Linked DNA regions of Homo sapiens. The protein of the gene in region 1 purifies or fractionates together with the protein of each later gene. This does not show direct contact. Each region holds a gene or a part of one and is shown in the gene's direction. Other genes may lie near its edges.

Region 1 (7,028 bases):
TGGTCTAATTACTGCTGAACTAAGAGTATAGGTTATGTTTCAGTTCTAAATAAAGTGGGAATAGGGAGCTGCAGAAATGCTTGATGATGTTACTTCTCCTGAGTACTCATTTTTTAGGTCCATACTATTCTAGTCTATGTTTTCAGGTAATGTTAGACTACCGTTTAGGACAGAGGAACTACACTTTATAATGGAAGAAAAACATTTACTTTTACCTTAAATTAATGACATGCAAATTGTTTGATGTTTGGTGGAAGTTTTATACAGTCTTGCAAAAGTGAATAGACTGTTTCTTTCTTATTTACACTTTTAAATTCATGTCTGAAAATAGTTGTTTTAGAGTTCTGTGTTTATTTAATAATAAAAGTTTTAGAAAAGTTATTTGGAACCAAGTTCCAAAGGAATAAAAGTTGCATATATGGGAAGCTAGAACTAAATCAAGATTGGGATTTGAATGATGTAGATAAAAATTATGGGTCAAAAATACCTACTAAAATATGTAATGCCATCAGGGTCCCAATTTAGTATTTAAAACAATCTTCTTTTTATTTATTTATTTTTTTTGAGATGGAGTCTTGCTTGCTCTGTCGCCTAGGCTGGAGTGCAGTGGCATGATATTGGCTCACTGCAGCCTCTGCCTCCTGGGTTCAAGTGATTCTCTTGTCTCAGCCTCCCGAGTAGATGGGATTACAGGCGCGCACCACCATGCCTGGCTAATTTTTTGTATTTTTAGTAGAGACGGGGTTTCACCATGTTGGCCAGGCTGGTCTTGAACTCCTGACCTCAGGTGATCTGCCTGCCTCGGCCTCCCAGAAAACAATCTTCTTTAATAACTTTGAGAAATGTTTTTGTCGTTATATAAATTTTCTCACTTGTAGTTCTTTGCCTTGAAGAAAAAAAATCAAATTACTGCTCTGTCTGTGGGCATGAATTTTGAAAGTGATAAAGGTTTTTCTACTGGGTTGTCACTTAAATTTTGGCTTATGCTGCCCTGGAGTGACCATTATGACTTAAAAAAAATATATTTATTGCACTTGACTGGCAGTGGGACTTATAAAAATGTGCAAGATTGTTTTGATATTTGGTTTAGAATTTCTCTTTCAATGAAGGGACTCCGAGGGAAAACAAAAATTGAGACATAAAATAAATTTTTCCTTCTAAAAAAAGACTTAAGGGAAAAGACATATAGATAACCTTCAAATATAATTCAGTTAACATGAAGACATTTACAAAATTACCCATGATTCTATCAGCCTCATATAACCGTTCTTTACATTTTTAAACCAAATTCTAAACTAATCTGTTTAGTTTTTTAAAACTTAAGGAATTAAGTTATTTAGGAAAGCCATTAGAATGAATGAAAAGATATCTACATGCTACTTCATTTTGCTTTTTTGGAGAATTGTATGTAATAAGTTGGTAATTTAGAATTAATTTGTATTAGTTTATATCTTCCAATGGGAACATTGCGTTTTTTAGTTACTGCCTGGCCTGACAGTATGCAAAGAGGCCTGGGGCCCTGTAAAGGGGACATTTCCTGGAAGAATTCTCTGTTGTATATGGAAAAACCCTGGCTCAGAGTAGATTTCTTGCCAAATTGTCTAAGCTGATGGATTCTAGTTGAATACCATTTTGCTTTATAATATAGCCATCTAGTTTCACATCGGTTTCTATATTCTTAAAATACTTGAGGATCTACCTGAAAGGTGAATTAAAATATTATTAATCTAACAAAACATATTATCTTATAGTACTTAAAACTAGAATCTTAAAAAGTAATTTATAAGTTTTTGTTGTTGCTAATGGGTAGGGGAAAAAAGACCAAAGTGATAATTCTGTTTTCAGGAAGGTAAAACTAAAAAGATAATTTATTTAAGATCAGTATCCTTTCCAGACCTGTTTAGTCTCAGACTGTTGAGATGAACAGCATTTACCAGACATTCCTACCTTCTAATTCAGTTGTCTTGGATACTGAATAGACCCTCATTCTTGGCTCATTAACAAAACAGATGTGAGAAAGAATATTGTGTGGTTTTTCAGCCATAATGGTTATGCTGTTAGGATACATGAACAGCCTTTCTGTATTTGGAGTTTCTGTGGTTTTCTGCCATTATCTGTGTTAATATTAATGACTTTCTTTGGCTAGCCACTGCTTAAAAAAAAAAAACCAACTATTGAGATTCAGCAAAACCTTGTCACACAACTGATGCTTTCTCTTATACATTAAAATGTGGGCATTTTGTGGTTTGGTTATAATAAAAAAAAGTGTGCATTAGTCTGAAATGTCAGTTTAAGGAAATGAAGAATTCCTTGTTTTTTGTTTGTTTGTTTGTTTGAGACAGAGTTTTGCTCTCGTCGCCCAGGCTAGAGTGCAATGGTGTGATCTTGGCTCAGTATTTTTAGTAGAGATGGGATTTCACCATGTTGGCCAGGCTGGTCTTGAACTCCTGACCTCAGGTAGTCCACTCACCTCGGCCTCCCAGAGTGCTGGGATTACAGGCATGAGCCACTGCACCTGCCCTAGAATTCCTTGTTTTACATCAGCCAGTTATTTTATACATCATTTCCAAATTGTCAAGTTCTTGGGAAATCAGAACGTGGTATCTACAGTCTATTGATGTGAGACATTTTTAGATTAAAAAAATATTTTTTGTAGAGACGGGATCTTACTATGTTGCACAGGCTGGTCTTGAATTCCTAGGCTCAAATGATCCTCCTGCCTCAGCCTCCCAAAATGCTGGGATTGCAGGAGTGAGCCACCATGCCCACCCATATTTTTAGGTTTTTCATTTGTAGAAGAAATTTTACAAGAATGTGTTCTCAATTGTAAGCTTACATAATACTACTTTTGAGTCATTACTAATACTTGGTATTTTAACTGATTTCTGAATCTTCTAACAATATGAGAGAGACATAGTATTTCTGTGAACTTTAAAAATGATGAAAGAATAGATTGCAAAATGGGCTCTTACTAATAACAAGGGAAATGTCCCCTTTTATTTTCAAGGGAGGAAATGCCTTTTAAAAATTGTTTCTCACTCCTGTAATCTCAGTGCTTTGGGAGGCCGAGGCAGGTGGATCAGCTGAGGTCAGGAGTTCGAGACTAGCCTGACCAAAATGGTGAAACCTCGTCTCTACTAAAAATACAAAAAATTAGCCGGGCATAGTGGCGGGTGCCTGTAATACCCGCTACTCGGGAGGCTGAGGCAGGAGAATCCTTTGAACATGGGAGGTGGACATTGCAGTGAGTTGAGGTCACGGCATTGCACTCCAGCCTGGGCAACTCAAAAAAAAAAAAAAATTGTTTCCCAGCCGGATGTGGTGGCTCCCACCTGTAATCCCAGCACTTTAGGAGGCTGAAGCAGGCAGATCATGAGGTTAGGAGTTCAAGACCAGCCTAACCAACATGGTGAAACCCCATCTCTATTAAAAATACAAAAATTAGCTGGGCATGGTGGCGTACACCTGTAATTCAGCCACTTGGGAAGCTGAGACAAGAGAATTGCTTGAACCTGGGAGGCGGAGGTTGCAGTGAGCCAAGATCGTGCCACTGCCCTCCAGCCTGGACCACAGTGCGAGATTCTGCTCAAAAAAAGAAATAAATTGTTTCCCATACTGCCACCTGATAAGCTTAACCCTCAACTGGCTGGATGTTCTATAAGTGATTATTTAATTGTAATGAGCCTAATAATAAGTGCGGTATGTTTGGACAGATTCATTGAATGAAAAAGTGGAATTAGCAGGTAGGAGGTTCCTGAAGTTCCATGCTGTTTACTACGTAGCTTTGCAGACTTAACATGTATAAAATCAGAGACATTTCATTAAGTCAGATTTTGAGATCAACACAATATATTTCTTTTTCCAAAACAAAAATGTATTCTTTTTTTTTTTTTTTTTTGAGACGGAGTCTTGCTCTGTCGCCCAGGCTGGAGTGCAATGGCATGATCTCGGCTCACTGCAACCTCCGCCTCCTGGGCTCAAGCAATTATCCTGCCTCAGTCTCCCTAGTAGCTGGGATTACAGGTGCCCGCCACCACGTCCAGCTAATTTTTGTATTTTTAGTGGAGATGGGGTTTCACCATGTTAGTCAGGCTGGTCTTGAACCAGACCTGACCTCAGGTGATCCACCCTTCTTGGCCTACTGAAGTGCTGGGATTACAGGTATGAGCCACTGTGCCCGGCCCAAAAATGCATTCTTTTTCCAATTATAAAATAATAACTACATGTTTATTACTTTAAAAAACAAACGATATAAGAATGTCTCAAATAGAAGATGAAAGTATGATCCTATCCTCCAGATGAAACCATTGTTAACTCTTTCTTGTATATCTTCCCAGACATCCATCCGTCTGTCCATATATTTATCATACGAATTGTTTCTAACCTTCTTTTTCCACTTAGTAATGTGTCGTAAGTATCTTTCCCATATCATTACTTACATCTATATAATAGTATAATAATTTATACTGAGTACATAGCATTTAATTTTATCTGTATATTGATCAGTCTCATTGATAGTGGTTTAGATTTTTTCCAGTTTTTTGTTATTATGACTAAAACTTTGTAAGTATTCTAGTACATATGTGTTTGTATACTGGTCCAGTGCTTGCTTTTGGATAAATTGTTAGAAGTAGAATTATTGAAACAGTATTCCATGAATATTAAAGAAAATGTTTCCAGTGAAAATCTATAAGTTAGTAATTGGCTATAGTATATGTTATAGTTGATTTTGATTTATTCACTGCTTGTTTTTTTTCATCAGTCACATTTGCTGTAGGCTATTGTTTAGCTTTAGACTTTCCAACTGGTACACATTGGATTACTAGATGAGTGAACAACATGGACACATGTATGCTTTGGAAATGTATGGTTTTATGTTTGAAATTTAGTTTGGTTAGTTATTATCCAGTACATACAATAACTGCTGAAAGAAAAGTTTGATATAGGGAGAAAGTCCAGATAGTGCTTTGTATTTCTGTGTAGTTATATTTCCAACTCTAGTGGGCAGTATGTATTTGTTAAATAACTAAAATATGCTTCATTGGAAGTATAATTCATTGTATTGACAGAATTGTTTCATCTGCTAATTTACATTATTATGTAATGTAAATATTTCATAATATTCTGGATATTATGAAAATATCCAGAATATTTTCTGGATACTAAACTTGATTAGTATCTATAGAATTCTGTTCATTGCTTATTCATGCAACAGAATTTTGCTTTGTGCCAAATTATTTAAAAAGCACCAGGTAAAGTAATGACCATGGAGAAAAAAATTGACAGTATGATATAGTGTAAAAAACATGGGTTTTAGAGACAGATTCTGGCTCTTAAATTAACTGAAATTTATTAATGATGTGTCGGTATAGGTTTGAGTGCAAATGTTCTCCTCTTGTAGAGGATGTTGATAGTAGGGTGTCTGTGTGTATGTCAGGGCAGGAGGCCTGGGACATATGGGAAATCTCTACCTTCTGTTCAATTTTGCTGTGAACCTAAAACTTCCCTAAAATAGTCTATCAGAAAAAGTTAACTGCTACTTTGGGCAGTGCATTTAATCTTCCTTAACCTTAATTTTCTTATCTGTACAATGGGATAGTAAGAAGAGATGACACATGCAAAGGAAATGGCCATTTCTCTCTTTTTTATGATATTTTACTATAGAGAATTTAGGATGTATACATATAGGCAGAACTGTATAATAAACTCTATTGTACCCACCACCCAAACGCAGTCATCAACCCACGTCCAATCGCTTCTCTTCTACTTTTCCCTCTTTTATATTTTTGAAGCATATTCTAGGTATAATATGATTTTATTCATATTTAGTAGTAACTATAAAAGTTATGGACTCATGATATAGTACCATTATCACAGCAAAATAATAATCACTTATAAAAATTTCTAATCATTGTTCAAATTTTTACTTGTCTCACATATTATTTTTTAAACTGTTTGCCTTAAAAAAAAATTTTTTTTTTTTTGAGATACAGTCTCACTCTGTTGCCCAGGCTGGAGTTCAGTGGCATGATCTTGGCTGACTGCAACCTTCACCTCCCAGGTTCAAGCGATTCTCCTGCCTCAGCCTCCTGAGTAGCTGGGATTACAGGCATGCGCCATGACGCCCGGCTAATTTTTGTATTTTTAGTAGAGACGGGGTTTCACCATGTTGGCCAGGCTGGTCTTGAACTCCTGACCTCAGGTGATCCGCCCGCGTCAGCCTCCCAGAGTGCTGGGATTACAGGCATGAGCCACCACGCCCAGCCTAAAAAAAATTTTTGATTCAAAATCCAAATAAGTTCTACACATTGTGATTGATCGATATGTCTTTTAAGTGTCTTAATCGGTAAGTTTTCTCTCCTTGTTTTTCTCCTCTGCAATTTATGGGCTGTTTGTCCTTTTAGAATTTTTCACGATCTGGATTTTGCTGGTTCCATCTTTACAATTTAATTTAACATAATCCTTTGAATTTCCTGTAAACTGCTAGTGGATCCAAGGGCTTGATCAAATTCAGGCCATTCTTTTTGAACTTACTACAGTTGGGTTTTTGTCCCTAGCACTTGACTGGAATTGTTTTTATCAAGGTCAGCAAAGACTTAGCTAAACCCAATAGTTCCCAGATCTTCATTTTATTTCATCCACATCTAATGACATTTTCTTCTTGAAACACTGTTTTTCTCCATTTGGTTTTCAGGGTACCACTCTCTCCAGGTCCTCCTCCAACCTTGTTGGCTGTTACTTTTCCAGTTCCTTTGCTGTTTTCATTTCCCTAATTTCTAAATATTGGGAGTATCCTTGGGGTTAGTATTCTGTATCCATGCCACAGTCTGTCTGATCTCTAATCCAGTGGTTTTAAATAACACTTCTATGCTGAGGACACCCACATTTACACCTCCAGCCTGGACCTCTCCTCTGAACTCCACACTCATCTAACTGCTTACTATTCATCTACTTGTAGACACCTCAAATTTAGCATATCCTTAAAATCCTCTTGATTTCCCCTCCAAACTTGCTACTATCACTGAGTC
Region 2 (7,028 bases), on another chromosome or scaffold:
AGAGAAGTCAAGGATTACTCCAGGATTTAGGCTGTTGAGATGGTTAGGGCAATTTATTGCCTACACTAAATATTTTCTTTTCTTTCTTTTTTTTTTTCTCTCTTTTCCCTCAGTGTCAAGCTATCAACTTGTGTTTGTTATTGCTGTTATTGTATCTGCTTCTAGTTTCGCTCACCTATTTTAGGATATATTACTTTTGTTTAAATCTTCTGTGGGCCAAAAAACACAAAAGTTTTAAAAATTGTATATTTAAAATAAGATTGTTGGTTTAACATAGGGCCTCTGAGTGAGAGTTTGTGTTGTTGTATTTAGGAGTAAAGTGAATCAGCCTTAATGCCAGGACTTCTAACAGTTGCATTCCCTGTGGAGGCCTTAAGCTTGCTTTTGAATTCAGTTATGTTGTTAATGATTAAGTTTGCCAGAACTCTAAATCTCTGAATGAGAATTCATTTATATTTACTTTATTTGTTTAAACAGGCAAAAGAATGGACCCCAGCAGGAAAAGCAAAGCAAGAGAATTCTGCTAAGAAGTTTTATTCTGAATCTGAGGAAGAGGAGGACTCTTCTGATAGTAGCAGTGACAGTGGTGGGTTTTATAATTTATTGGCATATATTATTTACATAGTAGATTACATTCTATATCTCAGAAACAAGGCCTAATCCATAATATTCAGCAGGTAGTTTTAAGTGAAGTTTGTATTATCAAAATAATCCCTTTCATTTATATATCACTCTTTAGTTTTCAAAGTAATTTTTAATTACTAAATTCTCTTTTTACTTTACAATATCTCTTGGATAGTAGCTGATACATTGGTATAGCTGAAACAGGAACTCATACTTTTCTGAATTCTAAACCACAATGCCTAATATATCTATTGAAAAACATAATTTTACACTTGATGAACTTTTAGTGGGGTCTTTAAAAGTAACTTTCTTTTACAAAAACGTAAAGTTTATTTTATACCTTGAAGAGTCTTTTTCTCTTTCATTTTATACTTATCTCTTTCTGTGAACCTCTATAGAGATAAAGCTAAAATTATTAAGTCTCTATATACTATAAAAAAATCAAACTAAAGGTTGAGGGTAACTATATGCAGTGAAAAGAATGCTTAATAGGAAGGATTTAGAGGCCCTGGCTTTTACCTATGCAAATTGAATAAGGCACCTACTTTTCTCTATATCAGATAAATGAAGGGGTACAGTTAAATATTTCTTAAAGTCCCTTCATTGCTAAAATTCTGTGAGTGATTTGCATAATGAAAAATAGATTGTAGTCACTTTCTGATGCTCTTATTAACACTTAAGCTAATAGGCAAATCTGACCCAAGACCAAACGACACCCAACTTTCTCTAAAATCTTTATTCCTTGGAGAACCAGGGCCTGTCACTCTTACATGGTTATCTGCTACCCTACTGTAAGGTAATTCACTCTTCTTTTCTCTGTCTTCCTTATCAAAAATCTTTGTTTTTAGTATCTGATAAATTAATCTGTGATACATTACCTGTAATTTCTTTCATTGTTTATAGCATAAGCCAGTTATCTGACTTAATATGTATGTGCGTGTAACTTGGATATTACCACAAATCTAAAATGTCCTTATTTAGTAGCTTTATTTTAGTAAAATAAACTTTCCTGTTTGTAAATGATGATAATGATGAGTGCCTTACCCTGTGGCAGACCCTGTTGTGTTCTAATCTCCTTTGTATGTTTCAAATCATTTAATCTTCACAACAGCTCTGAAAAGTAACTAGTGTTATCCCCATTTGCTGAAAAGGAAACCAAAACCCAGAGAAGTTGAATAACTTGTTCAGTTTTACAACTGGCAAGTAGAAGAGCCAGGATCTGAATCCGAACACTAACTTGAGAACCCATGCTTGTACCCCTTGTAAGCCGTCTTAAAACAATACAGGCAGTCCTAGGTTTTCACTGTGATGGACCTTCCTGATGTTGGTATTATTTAACCATTAGAATGTTTAATTAAAGGTTATGTTCCTGCCTAAGAGGGCTTCGTTACATAGATCACAGGCAGGGCAACAGTTTGTCCTTTTGTCTGGGACACAACTCTGTAGTTATAGTCATTTTAAATAGTAAAAATTATGCTTCACTTAAAAAATACACATATATTCTTCATGTATTCTCTTCTGCGAACAGTCCTAGCATACCATAATTTACACATAAAACATTTAAAAGTATAATTCCTCAGTGTAACTTGATCATCTCTTTGACCTATGGAAAACTCGTTTACTAGCTCGAATAAGTAATAACTCTTTAATTAGTCATTTTGCCTATTGTCTTTGAATTTGGAGGTCTTTCCAAGTGATTTGAATGGCTCATTTTCCTCTCAAAATTTGTTCCTAAGAAGATTCAACTGTTGCCTTCTTTTACTCTAAATAGAATTTCCCATTACAAGCAGAAGAATTCAAAATTATTTCTTTAGCCTTACATCAATCCTTACGTAATTCTTTAAAAGAAAGTTTTTGACATAGCTATATACTTTGGGGTTTGAAGTGAGATTCCCTCAAATTTGGTTTACTTGGTTCACCTTTGCTTAGCTTTTCTCTCCTCGTTGTCAGAGCATCCTCTGTCTGCCTCCCTCCAAGCTCACAGTGCTAAAGGAATCCATAGAGCTGAAAGAATGGGGTGTGGGAATAAAATGTTAAACAAGTGGTGTCCACTGAACTAAAATTCAACATCTGGTTTCATTTGTGATGAATATTGACAGTTACAGGTGTCCGTGTGTCTAATTAAATGACTATAAATCTAAGAACATCTGGTTCTGTTTTTCAGAGAGTGAATCTGGAAGTGAAAGTGGAGAACAAGGCGAAAGTGGGGAGGAAGGAGACAGCAATGAGGACAGCAGTGAGGACTCCTCCAGTGAGCAGGACAGTGAGAGTGGACGGGAGTCAGGCCTAGAAAACAAAAGAACAGCCAAGAGGAACTCAAAAGCCAAAGGAAAAAGGTAACTTATTTTGTCAGAATTTCCTTCAAAAAATATTCTGTGAAAGTTTGCCCCAGGCAGAGATGTTTCTTATTAATCAAAAAATGGTGAGAGAAAAAAAGTGTGTATTTTTTTCCAGATATTAAATCTTTTTAAAATTAAAGTGCTAGTTGTTCACATTATTTTCCTACTTGTAATGCTTAGCTTTCATTTTGAACTTGAACATATCTTGGGGTTACATTTTGAAAATTGGTATAACCTTGGAAGGCTGAGTTAAGTGATCAAGCAATAGGTATGAAACACTTAATTACCTTTTGTAGCGATTTTGCTGAGGGCTAAAATTAAATCCTTCAACACTTTGCCATTATGTAACCAAGACAATTGATTTTTCTAAATAATGTTATATTAAAAAGATTATGATCCAAATATTAGAGTCAAGGGCTGTGAAGGAAGACGGTCATAAGATCTTTAAGTGTTAGCACTTTTTAAGATCTCCCATTATCAATAACATTATCATGTATTAAAGTGTCATTAAAATTTTGAGTAATTGGGTCTAATATCTTGGATTGTGCAACTCTGTTTTCCCCGCTGCTGTCAGCGAGTGGCCTCTGCCGACATGATGGTCCTTTCCCCGGGAGCCTGCTGCCCGCTCACTTGATGAGCTTGCAGCCCGGCTCAGTCGTGGCTGACAGCACTGATTGGGGCGCAGTACGCTCTCTGCTCCTTTTATTACAGACAGTAATTAAAGCAGCTCTCCCTGCCACTTCCATAACAAACACAGCATAATGCCCTAATTATGACTTTATTAATTTAAGTCAGGATTTAATGATTTTAAAAGTGATTTATATTGTTTTTCCTGTTCAGAACAAATGAAATCTGTAGGTTAAATTAATACAGGCTTTTCATCATTGCAAAGTTAAAAACCTAGTTACCAGTAAATTCTTTTCATTAGATTAACATCTGAAACTCTAAGCAGTAAGGTAAACAATAATTACCATCAAAATTGAGTGATGCATAATAAAATAACACTTTTACTTTTAAAATCTTATCTTAAAAGCTAGAAGTTGAATATATTTAGAATCATTCACTTGTTGCAGCAAAGGAGCTACTTGGTTTATAATAGCCTTGTCTTTGAGAGAAATCCTGTACTTCTGCTTTAATATCAGCATGTCTATGATGATACGAGTTATAAAACATGTCCTGTTTCTAGAAAGGGAAAGTTTTGTTCAGTGCATGAAATGTCCTTTCAGATGGCAAAAGTCAGTATACTCAAAATTTGTAGTCATGTATTAGGTTTATTATTCTTTTCTTCAGAAATGGATTTTTCTCTTTACCCATGTTTGAATTTAAAAGAATTGTTTATTACAAAGAGAACCACAAATACATTCTAAACCTTATATTTTTAAGTACACATTTTAACCAGTGAATTGGGGATAATAAATTGCCATTTTTTTGCCAGGGAAAAACAACAACATATTTTTCAGTCTTCAAATATAATTACATGTGCTCTGAGATGTTACCATGGCTCCATTTTTAATAAATAGCAATCATATTTCCTCCACAAAAATCAATTCTAGGAAATATTGATTCTTTCCTTGTCTCACTCCTCTCCCTCCCCCTGTATTTTTCTGTCTCAGAATTTTTTTTAACTTTGCCAGTATGATAATTTTTTAAAGCTCCTAATAAGCTTTAAACATCTTCAAAAACCACCCTTTAGTAATCATAAATATTTATGACCAAATTTAAATTTTACACTCCAAGGTATTTTCATTTGAAGGGAGATAGTATGACATAGTGGAAAAAATACGGACTTTGGAATGAGACAGGCTTGAGTTCAGATTCTAGTTCTGCCCCTCTTGTTATGTGCCCTTGAGCAGGTTATTTAACCTTTCTAAATATTAATTTCATTATTGTAAATGGGATAATAATGTACCCAGGAAGAGTGCATTTAAATTAGATAATTAGTATGATTGGTATGAAGTGCCTAGCCCTTTCTGGCCCACAGTAGATTCTTAAAAAAATACACACACATGTGGTAGAGAGAACTAGACCTTTAGTTTCCAGGAAAATATAAAGCACCACAAGGCATTTGTCATCCCCTGAGAGAAGGGTGTTTGGTCATCTCACATGTTATTCCTTCTCCTTGGAGAACTGTTTCCCTGCCCATCTGCCAGCCTTACTCCTATATCTTGGCTTATATGTCTCTTTCTCCAGGAAGCATTCCTAATTGGATCAAGTTTTTTTAGGTGTCTCTCCACATGTTCTCCTGACACGCTATAATTTATTACTTATTACTTATTATACTGTATTATCACTGCAACCTTATCTGTATCCTCCAGTGGACCGTAGACCCTGTAGGGTAGACACACAGAGATCCTCTGTGTCTTACTAACCATCGTTATCCTTAGCACCTAGCATAATGCCAACATGTAGTCAATAATTAATAAATATTTGTTGAGCAGGTGAACAAATGAATGGTGTTAAGCACTTAGGTATGATCATTTGATATTTTAAAAGTTTATATTTGATTAGCTTAAATTTTTAGCAAGATAGTACTTTAGAAGAATTTCCTTTGAACTGGTTAACATTTTCTCATAGAATGTGTTTAAGGTCACATTTGGGAACTTGTGTAAGTAATTTTCTTGGGTAGAAAATGTATAAAATACAAGTCTATTTTAGCAGAAGTAGATATATAAATATTTAAATATATTACTAAACCAGGTGTGGTGGCTCAAGCCTATAATCCCAATATTTTGGGAGGTCAAGTTGGGAGGACTACTCGAGCCCAGAAGTTCCAGACCAGCCTAGGCAACCTAGTGAGACCCTGTCTCTACAAAAAATATAAAATTAGCTGGATGTGGTGGTGCATGCCTGTAGTCCCAACTACTTGGGAGGCTGAAATGGGAGCATCGCTTGAGCCCGGGAGGTCAAGGCTGCAGTGAGCCGTGATTGCACCACTGTACAATGAGACCCTGTCTCATATACGTATATATATACGTATATATACATGAATATATATGTATATACGTATATATATACATGTATGTATACATACATACACACACACACACACACACACACACACACAGGCACAGTATTTTGAGATAGCGTTTTAAAAAATCAGCCTAAATATCTTTAACGTTGTTACTGGTAGTACTTAATTCTTGGTAAATCAAACATTTAATGTTTTCTACATTGCTTTTGATTATATTGTTTAGTGTCATTTTATGACTTTTTGCATTTGAAATTTGTATGACAGGATAGAATTGAATTTGAATGGGTTCTAATTTATTTGGTTATGGGTAATACCTTTTTTATTACCTCATTAATGTATTCTGGAATTTAAAAACAATTTTTTTATAAACTGCTTATATAAAGGAGTTAAAGTTCATATTTCAAAATTTACTATTATGTGTAGTGATTCTGAAGATGGGGAGAAGGAAAATGAAAAATCTAAAACTTCAGATTCTTCAAATGACGAATCTAGTTCAATAGAAGACAGTTCTTCCGATTCTGAATCAGAGTCAGAACCTGAAAGTGAATCTGAATCCAGAAGAGTCACTAAGGTAAGAGATTATACATTTGTTGTAATTGAAGGTAAATATTCTTATAGCAACTAAAATAGACAACACCATCCTCATCTACTCCTGTGATTTTATTTTTTCTAGATAAGCCTTTCCCTTATAACCCAACTCTGCAGAAATGCTAGAAACTTTAAAAAATCTCATCCCTTGCCACTGAAATCAAGGAACTCTTACGCATATGACCTTTTTTGTTCTTGGCTAGGTTGTGACAAGGGGGGGGTTTTGCTGAAGGGGAAGTGAAAGGAAGTCACAAAAATAGTATTGAGCAAAGAATTATAAGTGTACATACATCATAAGAAATTGAGACTATTCACTTTTTAAAAATATTGGGCATTTTGCATAATAGAGTGTGTTTTAAGGCTTCAATTAAAGAGTATACATTCTTTAGTTAGTAAGAATTTGCGTAGCCATTTATTTAAAAACAAATGGAACCACTTATATAATAAAATAATAATGCTTTTTGGTAATAACATTTTTAACACTGAATTTTGCCTGCTTAGCAGGA
Region 3 (7,347 bases), on another chromosome or scaffold:
TAAGCGAAACTCCAAGTATAGAAAAAAGAACATTTGTATTTATATTACTTTCTTATGTTGTGTTTAAAAAAAAAAGATTTCTTAGAGGCTGTAATACTTCCAAATTTTCTTTTTAAAAACTTCATTATGGAAAATCTCAAATATATCCAAAAGTAGAGAGAACAGTATAATCAAGTGAATATACTCATCACCCATCTTCAACTGTTAACATAGTCAATTTTATCTCATTTATATTCTCATTCAGTCTCTCTTCCTTTCTGTCACAGAATTATATTAAAGCAAATCTCAGCTGTCTTCTCATCCAGTTCTGAAATAATTCTGTTCCTATCTCTAAAAGATAAGTAATCTTTTAAAAATATAACCGTAATCTACTTCCAACTTAAAAAAATCAAAATTTCTTATTATCAAATATCCAGTCAATAAAGATACCTAAGTCTAAGGAAAAAAAGTCAAATGTCAAGACAAACAGTACCCTGAAAGATGTAATACTCAAAAATGCAACAAAAAGGCAGCATTCTCCTAATGTAGAGAGCTGGAAATCAGGGTCTTTAATGGGGAAATCTAAGAATGGCATGCCAAATTTGTAACATGTGCACAAGAACAATTTTTCTTGGTTGATAGCATTCATCAGAATGTCAAGAAGCTTGAGATCCAAAACATTTAAAGACTTTCTGCCTCTGGTTATGATTGTGCGTGCTTAGTGCCACCTCACCTCACATTGCCAGGAAGGATTAGTCAAGTAGGAAAACAAATCCACCTAAAATAACTTAGAAATCAAACTGAATTCAACTCAGCTTGTACTGAGCATACACTAGGTGCAAGACACTGGGTTAAACCTGAGAAACAAAGATAAATTTGACCTAGTTAATGTATACTGTAGAATGAGAAGGGACCAAACAGATTAATAATAACTATAATAGAATGCGATGAGAAAGTGCTTGTTTTAGGTATTTTCATGGAGATTCAGATGAAGAAGCAATGATGTCAATTTAGGGGGGCGGTAAAAGAGGGGTCGCTAGAATCCATAAGAAGAGAGAATTAAAGGCTGCCAGCAATGATACCAGTAGCCATGTTGCATATCAATATCCTCCATGTACAAAGATTTTACTTATAACCCTTGCCAAGAGACATGAATAAATGTATTTACTAGCATGTATATTTCCCTTACTGGATAGAGAGGGAGAGATGAACACAAAAGCTGAAGAAAAGAGGTTTTGTTTAAATTGTGTCTGGAAAGTTGAATAGTTCATCAGATCTGGAGAGGAGATTCAGTGAAAAGGGAAGGGAAATCATTCAGAGGAGGAGAAAAGCAGGAACAAAGGGGTGGAAATTACCGGCAGGTTGGGGAACAAGCAGAGTGGTGACCTTAGAGCCCAGTGTGTGGGAGGGCCCAGATGACTGGAAATGCCTGCTGAGACCATGGATGGATTGGAACCTTCCAGGCCAGACCCAGCCCTCTATTCTGTGGCCAGCAGAGAGCCATTCAAAGAATGATGGGTGCTCAATGTTTATTGAACTGGTAGTTCCCTGAATTAGCTAGATGGAGACAGGTGAGAGAGAAGCAGGCTACTTAAGATGCATTGCAATAGCTCTAGAGTGGTAGATATGAGAGGACACATACAACATTTCAAACATTTCAGAAATCATTATTCCAATTCTGACTTGACACTTCCTAATATGGGATTGTGGGCAAATTATTTCCCTTACTTTCTGTCCTCTTATTTGCAAAGTGGGTATAATATTGGCTCATTCCTGGGTTGTCATAACACTAGAATAATTCTATGCAAAGCATCTGGTAGAATATCTAGCACAGACTAAATACTCAATATGAAGTAGCTATCTTATTATCAATAAAACTTCTTTGATGTGAATCTGTTTTAATATGCTCATTATCTAATCTTATCCCTACATTAAATATTTACACCATACAAAACTACTAATGTAATCAATCCATCTAATGAACAGTACCCATTATGAATCTGTTTCTAGAAATGTAAACTGAACATGATTTATTTGCATTTCTAGGTAGATGTTAGATTCTCTTTCAACGTTATTGTCTCTAAATTCACTGGTCATGTATTCAGAGAGCACTAAATACCAACCAAGTGTCATAAGGCATCAAGAAAATAGATAGTAAGCTGCTATCCTCGAGGAACTGACAACCCCAGTGAGACAAACAGGTGTGACCTTCAAGTAACCATGGCCCAGATTTGGCACAAGAGATGGAAATACTAGCAATGAAGTACCCAATTATGTGTATGCATCTGCTGGTAAGATGCTAAATCACATGTTCCAGGAGGTTACCACTCAACTGTTTTTTTAGGTTTGTGGGTTTCTTCCGCATGATACTATGTTATAAATCAATTGTAACTCTGAACTAACAGCATTACAAAAGATTGGTCACTCTCAGGAGCCTTACTACTTGCTTGAACAGCCACATCATTATTAAAGCATCATCCAACAAAAGTATCTTTGTTATACACTGAGATGAATAATTTCAAACCATTTTCATGTAAGATGTTCTGGCTCAGATCTGTCCCAGTCTTTAATGCTGAAGCTTTAGGGGGGAAAAACAGCTGGAGTTTAGGAAAGATTTTTGCTAAAGGCAGGAAATAATGATAAACATATTCCAGGAGATTTCAGATGTTAGTGAAAGCTTCACGCAAAATAAATGCCTAAGGCCAGAGGAAAATGCATTTCGCTTTTCGTATGGCGCTATGAGAAGAAACAGTGGTCCTGGGGATGCTTAACAAAAACCACCTACATAATTACTCAAATATTTCTCTTTGACACATACACGTCTCTTTGACACACATATTGAGAGAAACATCAATACTACTCTGTAGGGAAACAACAGTAAAACATAAACACTAATTTCCAAAGAAACTTTCATTGATGATGTAAATATAAATCTGCACCCTGGAGAAATGACTGATTCCCGCATTTTAGCAAGCAAATCTTATTCTGAAATACACACTTGTATTTACCCCCATCTACCTATGGTCGAAGCTCCAGGCTACATATTACAGTTGAATGAAGGTTGGATTAAGAGGCTAATCTAAGGCTATATATAGGCAGCAACACCAATTTAATCTCCGCCCTCTCCAACCTCCCCACCCTCCACTCCCTATTTCCATAAATCTCAAGATCTGAGTTACAAAGAGAACCGAGAACTCTAGCAGAGCAAAGAAGCCCTTCCTTCCCCCTCCCACAGGCTGTCTCTCATAAACGAAGTATTAGTGCAAGTGTAAATTGTTTCCAAACATCTTTAACAAGCAACATTGGGCGATCAGGTTTTCTTCTACAGCTTCCACAGAGGCCAAAGAGATGACAAGTAGTGGGGAGGGCGAGGATCACCAGCGTAAAAACTACCTTCTCCCGAGTCTGTTCTCACTGACTCGCTAGTAATGGGGCGCTGTCCTTGCGACCCCTACCTAGCCCAGAGCCCCGGCCCCAGCCTCCCCGGGAGCCGCATCTGGCGGTGCCACGCACGAGACCATGTGCACCCGCCACTTCCCACCGCGTGGCTGGCCCCCGCCCGCCCGCCCGCGGTCCCAGGGTCTCCCGAGGCGGCCAAACGTTGCGAGTCGGAGGTCTTCATCCCAGGGCACTGATACCCCGTACGCGCCGTGATGATGAGGTGGAGCGGGGGCTTCTCCACCGCGAGGCAGGAAGCCGCCCCAGGAGGCACATGCTTCCTCCCCGCCAGCTCCTGCCCGATGGAAACCCCGGCGGGGCGGCAGTCGCTACTCTCGCAACCCTCACGGCGCCCCTTGCCTCACCTGGGCTGCTTCTCACCTGTCCGAGGAGGTAGCGACGACGCGCAAGGCTGGGGGCTGCGGCGATTCGTGCAGCAGCAGCGGCAGCAGCAGCAGCAGCAGCAGTGGCGGCAGACAATGGAGGAGTGAAGGACAGACACATTGACATAGACACACGGAACCCGGCGCAGCCCCGCCTCCCGTACCGCCCCCGTCTCCTAGACCGCCCCCGCCCAGACTGCGCCACTCCCGGGGGAATGGTGGGGGTACGGCGACAACCTGGGGCCTCTGCATGCCCCAGAAAGCCGTCGCTGAGCACATAACTGCCAGCTGTAGAATTTTCAATATTACATGTGGCGAAATATTTGAACCGGACAGGATAGGGGAGCGGAACGTGTAGGAGGAATTTAATTCCCCCCTCCAGCTTTCTGCATTTGGTTTTGTCCTCCCAGGTTGCTCCAATGGCGATCTCTCGCTACCGCCTCCTGCGGCTCCTCCTCCTCGGCAGGGCCAATGACAGGCGGCAGGCGGTGACCGCCGCAGGGCCTGCGGAGACCGTCCGCCTGGCTCGCCCGAGCTCGCCCGCTGTCCGCCAGCCCGCGGGAGGGAGGAGAGAAGCGAAGCGTTTCCGCGGTTGGCTACTCAGTGTCTTGGTCTCAAGTTGCCTCATTGCGGCTGGCGTTCCCAATACAGACGCATCGTTTCTTTTTTAATACTCCCTAAGAAAGGGAATAACCTTCAAGCTGGCGGGAGCAATGGTTCACATAAAGAAAGGCGAGCTGACCCAGGAGGAGAAGGAGCTACTGGAAGTCATCGGGAAAGGTACGGGTGCTGGGCTGCGACGCGGCCGCGGCCAGCCTGGCCGGGGGGCGTGGCGGAGCCCGGGGGGCGCTCCTGGCCTGGGTGACCTTTGGCTGCGGTTCTGCAAGGTTTGCAGCCTGGAACCGGGAAAGAGCGTTTCTCCCTTTGGTCTGGGAAAGGTTGCAGGGGCGGAGAGGTGGGGAGGCAGAAGCAGTGCTGGGACAAGAGGGGTAGTTACAGAGGCTCGGCCTCTAAATCCGCTTTTGGAAACGTACGGATTTCCACGCCCCGCCTTAGGTTAATGCGAGCTTCCCGGGGTGTGGACCCCAGTGTGTGAATTCTTCACTGCTCCCGAGGGATTTTGACCGCGGTCAGTCCTGGTAGTTTCAGGTTCTTAGGCGGGTGTCTAAATGACCCTTTAGACTTCCGCAGGCCGAATGATCTGGATCCTTTGCCGATCCCCGCCCCCGCTTGGGAGTGGAGGGCGCCCTTAGGGAGAGGGGTTCTTCATAAGGGTACAGAACTAGGTCTGTAATTTGCTGCATTGAGACTTCCGTATCCAGGGCCTCCCTGGCTTCCAGAAGCCCCGACAGCCTCAGGAACCCTAGAGAGACAAGGAAATTGGCGAGGCCTCCACACCCACCCCTCGGCCCACGTTGCACAGATGAGACCTTCTAATCGCGCTCCTTCGCGCTTTCTTGTCCACTCCCCCAAGGCGTGCCCCACTTCCGCAGTGCTGAGTCCCAGCGGGGAGCCCCGAGGACGAGCCAGAAGCCATATTTCCCCGGAGTCCCCGAGTGGACGTCCCAGAGGAGTTCCCTGCCGAGTCCCGTTACCTGGCAGGTGACATCAGCGTGACTGCATGCTTCTTCTGCACCCTCACGGTGCAGGGATGGTGATGCGTGCGACTCCGGGCAATTAATGTGGTGATTTTAAACTCAATAATAATATAGCCATGTTTGTCCTCGAATGGCAGAGATGCCAGTCATTGCAGCATAAGGCTTCCCAGTTTCCAGTTTTATTTACTTAGTAGCCAGGCTGAAATGTGGAATCCTAGAGAATAAGGCAGATTTATTCTTCATAGCGACAAGGAAACTCCACATGCGAAGGAGAAAAAATTCCGGTTTGAACTCAACAGGTGCTGATGAGCTGAGCCCACCCGATCTGATCTCAACTATTCTAAGTCAGTCACAGCTATATCTATCAATGATGTGTTCTTTGCCTGGAATTTGGGGATTTGGGTTAGAGTTTAGATTGTTGTACTGCATGGTTCTTGCTGACCTATTTGGCATTTCAGTCTTTCAGTTCTTCCTGTCTCTAGGTAATTTCTCCCTGCCTTTGATGGCTCTGGGATTCAATTAAGCAAACATGCAAGTTCTAGCTGTGTGCCAGGTACTGTGCTGGGCAAAAAGGAGACAAAGGATCAATTCACAATCCACCAGGGACAAAAATTCTTTTAGGCAGGACAGAGCTAGTACATGTCCTCTCTCTCTCTCGCTCTCGCTGTCTCTTTCTCTCTCTCTCTCGTTTGTTTGAGACAGGATCTCACTCTTCACCCAGGCTGGAGTTGCAGCTCTCTGCAGCCTCCACCTCCCTAGTGGCTGGGACTACAGGTGCGAGCCACCATGCCCGGCTACTTTAGAAAGATTTTTTTTTTTTTTTTGTAGAGATGGGGTGGTGGGGGTCTCCCTATGTTGCCCAGGCTGCTCTCGAACTCCTGGGCTCAAGTGATCCTCCTGCCTCGGCCTCCCTAAGTGCTGGGATTACAGGCATGAGCCACTGGGCCTGGCCCATCATGTGATCTCTTAAAAGTGAAAAATAGTGAGCAGTTTTATAAATTGAGTCTTTGAGAGGGGAGAAGGGATTCCTTGGATACATTCTCAGGTGTCCATCAGTATTTATTTTGAAGATTATATAAACCTGAATTAATGTGCATTTATTCTGGTTAGTGCTGTGATATTTCTGGGCTCACACGGTGCATCAAGTTGCATGAGTGCACTGATGCTTTCATCGCTTTCATTGGACCATGCCAATGAGAAAAGAACTGATGTGGACCTAGTATGTGATGCATTCTTGTCAAATGAAGGTCTGTGGGACATCACTTGCACTCATAAAGAAAAGTAATGGGAGATATGAGAAAAACAACCATAGCCAACGTTTATTGACTGTTATTGCAAGCCACACATAATTTTAAGTACTTTACATATATTAATGCATTTAATTTGGATGAGCTAGGAATTAATTTTAAGCTATGACAGTATGAGAGACAGCATGGGATAGTGGTTAACCATGCAGGTCTGGTTTGAAATTCTAACTCATTTACTGGTGATGTGGCCTTTGGGCAAGTGACTTTTCCTGAGCCTCAAGTCCTCTGTGTGAAAAATAGGAATAATAATAATACCCACCTCACAACGTTGTTATGGGGATGAAAGTAGTTAGTATAGTTAAAGCATTCGAAATACTGCTTGTGTTTGTGATAAATATAGTAATCTTCACTTTATAGGCAAGGCAACTGAGGAACTGGGAAGTTAGGAAACTTAGTGTCAAACAGGTAAGTGGCAGAAAGTGGCAGAGCAGAGGTATCACAGGGCCCATAGGTAATAAACAGGCTGTACCTAAAAACAAACTAAACAAAACATGAAACAGTACCATAGCAGTCCATACAATATTCACTTTGAGAGGTCATTTAGTTCTAGCAAAACAACATCTGTCAAGTTAACTCAGTTTTAAATGTTACTGATTTTGTAGTTCTGTGTGCATTAAATTTAAAGTAAATTTTTATTTTATA

What was found. The genes of interacting proteins can lie anywhere in the genome.
Region 2: the proteins of AGO3 (region 1) and AP3B1 purify together in Homo sapiens (affinity purification with mass spectrometry; 3 studies listed by BioGRID and IntAct, with this or other methods). This does not show direct contact.
Region 3: the proteins of AGO3 (region 1) and ANKMY2 purify together in Homo sapiens (affinity purification with mass spectrometry; 3 studies listed by BioGRID and IntAct, with this or other methods). This does not show direct contact.

Annotation. Positions count from the first base shown.
Region 1 is NC_000001.11:35,934,101-35,941,128, forward strand, and holds part of AGO3 (protein argonaute-3), read left to right. Parts: intron 1-7,028.
Region 2 is NC_000005.10:78,109,684-78,116,711, reverse strand, and holds part of AP3B1 (AP-3 complex subunit beta-1), read left to right. Parts: intron 1-477; coding exon 478-586; intron 587-2,788; coding exon 2,789-2,960; intron 2,961-6,357; coding exon 6,358-6,505; intron 6,506-7,028. UniProt on the Homo sapiens protein: Subunit of non-clathrin- and clathrin-associated adaptor protein complex 3 (AP-3) that plays a role in protein sorting in the late-Golgi/trans-Golgi network (TGN) and/or endosomes.
Region 3 is NC_000007.14:16,642,740-16,650,086, reverse strand, and holds the start of ANKMY2 (ankyrin repeat and MYND domain-containing protein 2), read left to right. Parts: upstream 1-4,332; 5' UTR 4,333-4,513; coding exon 4,514-4,580; intron 4,581-7,347. UniProt on the Homo sapiens protein: May be involved in the trafficking of signaling proteins to the cilia.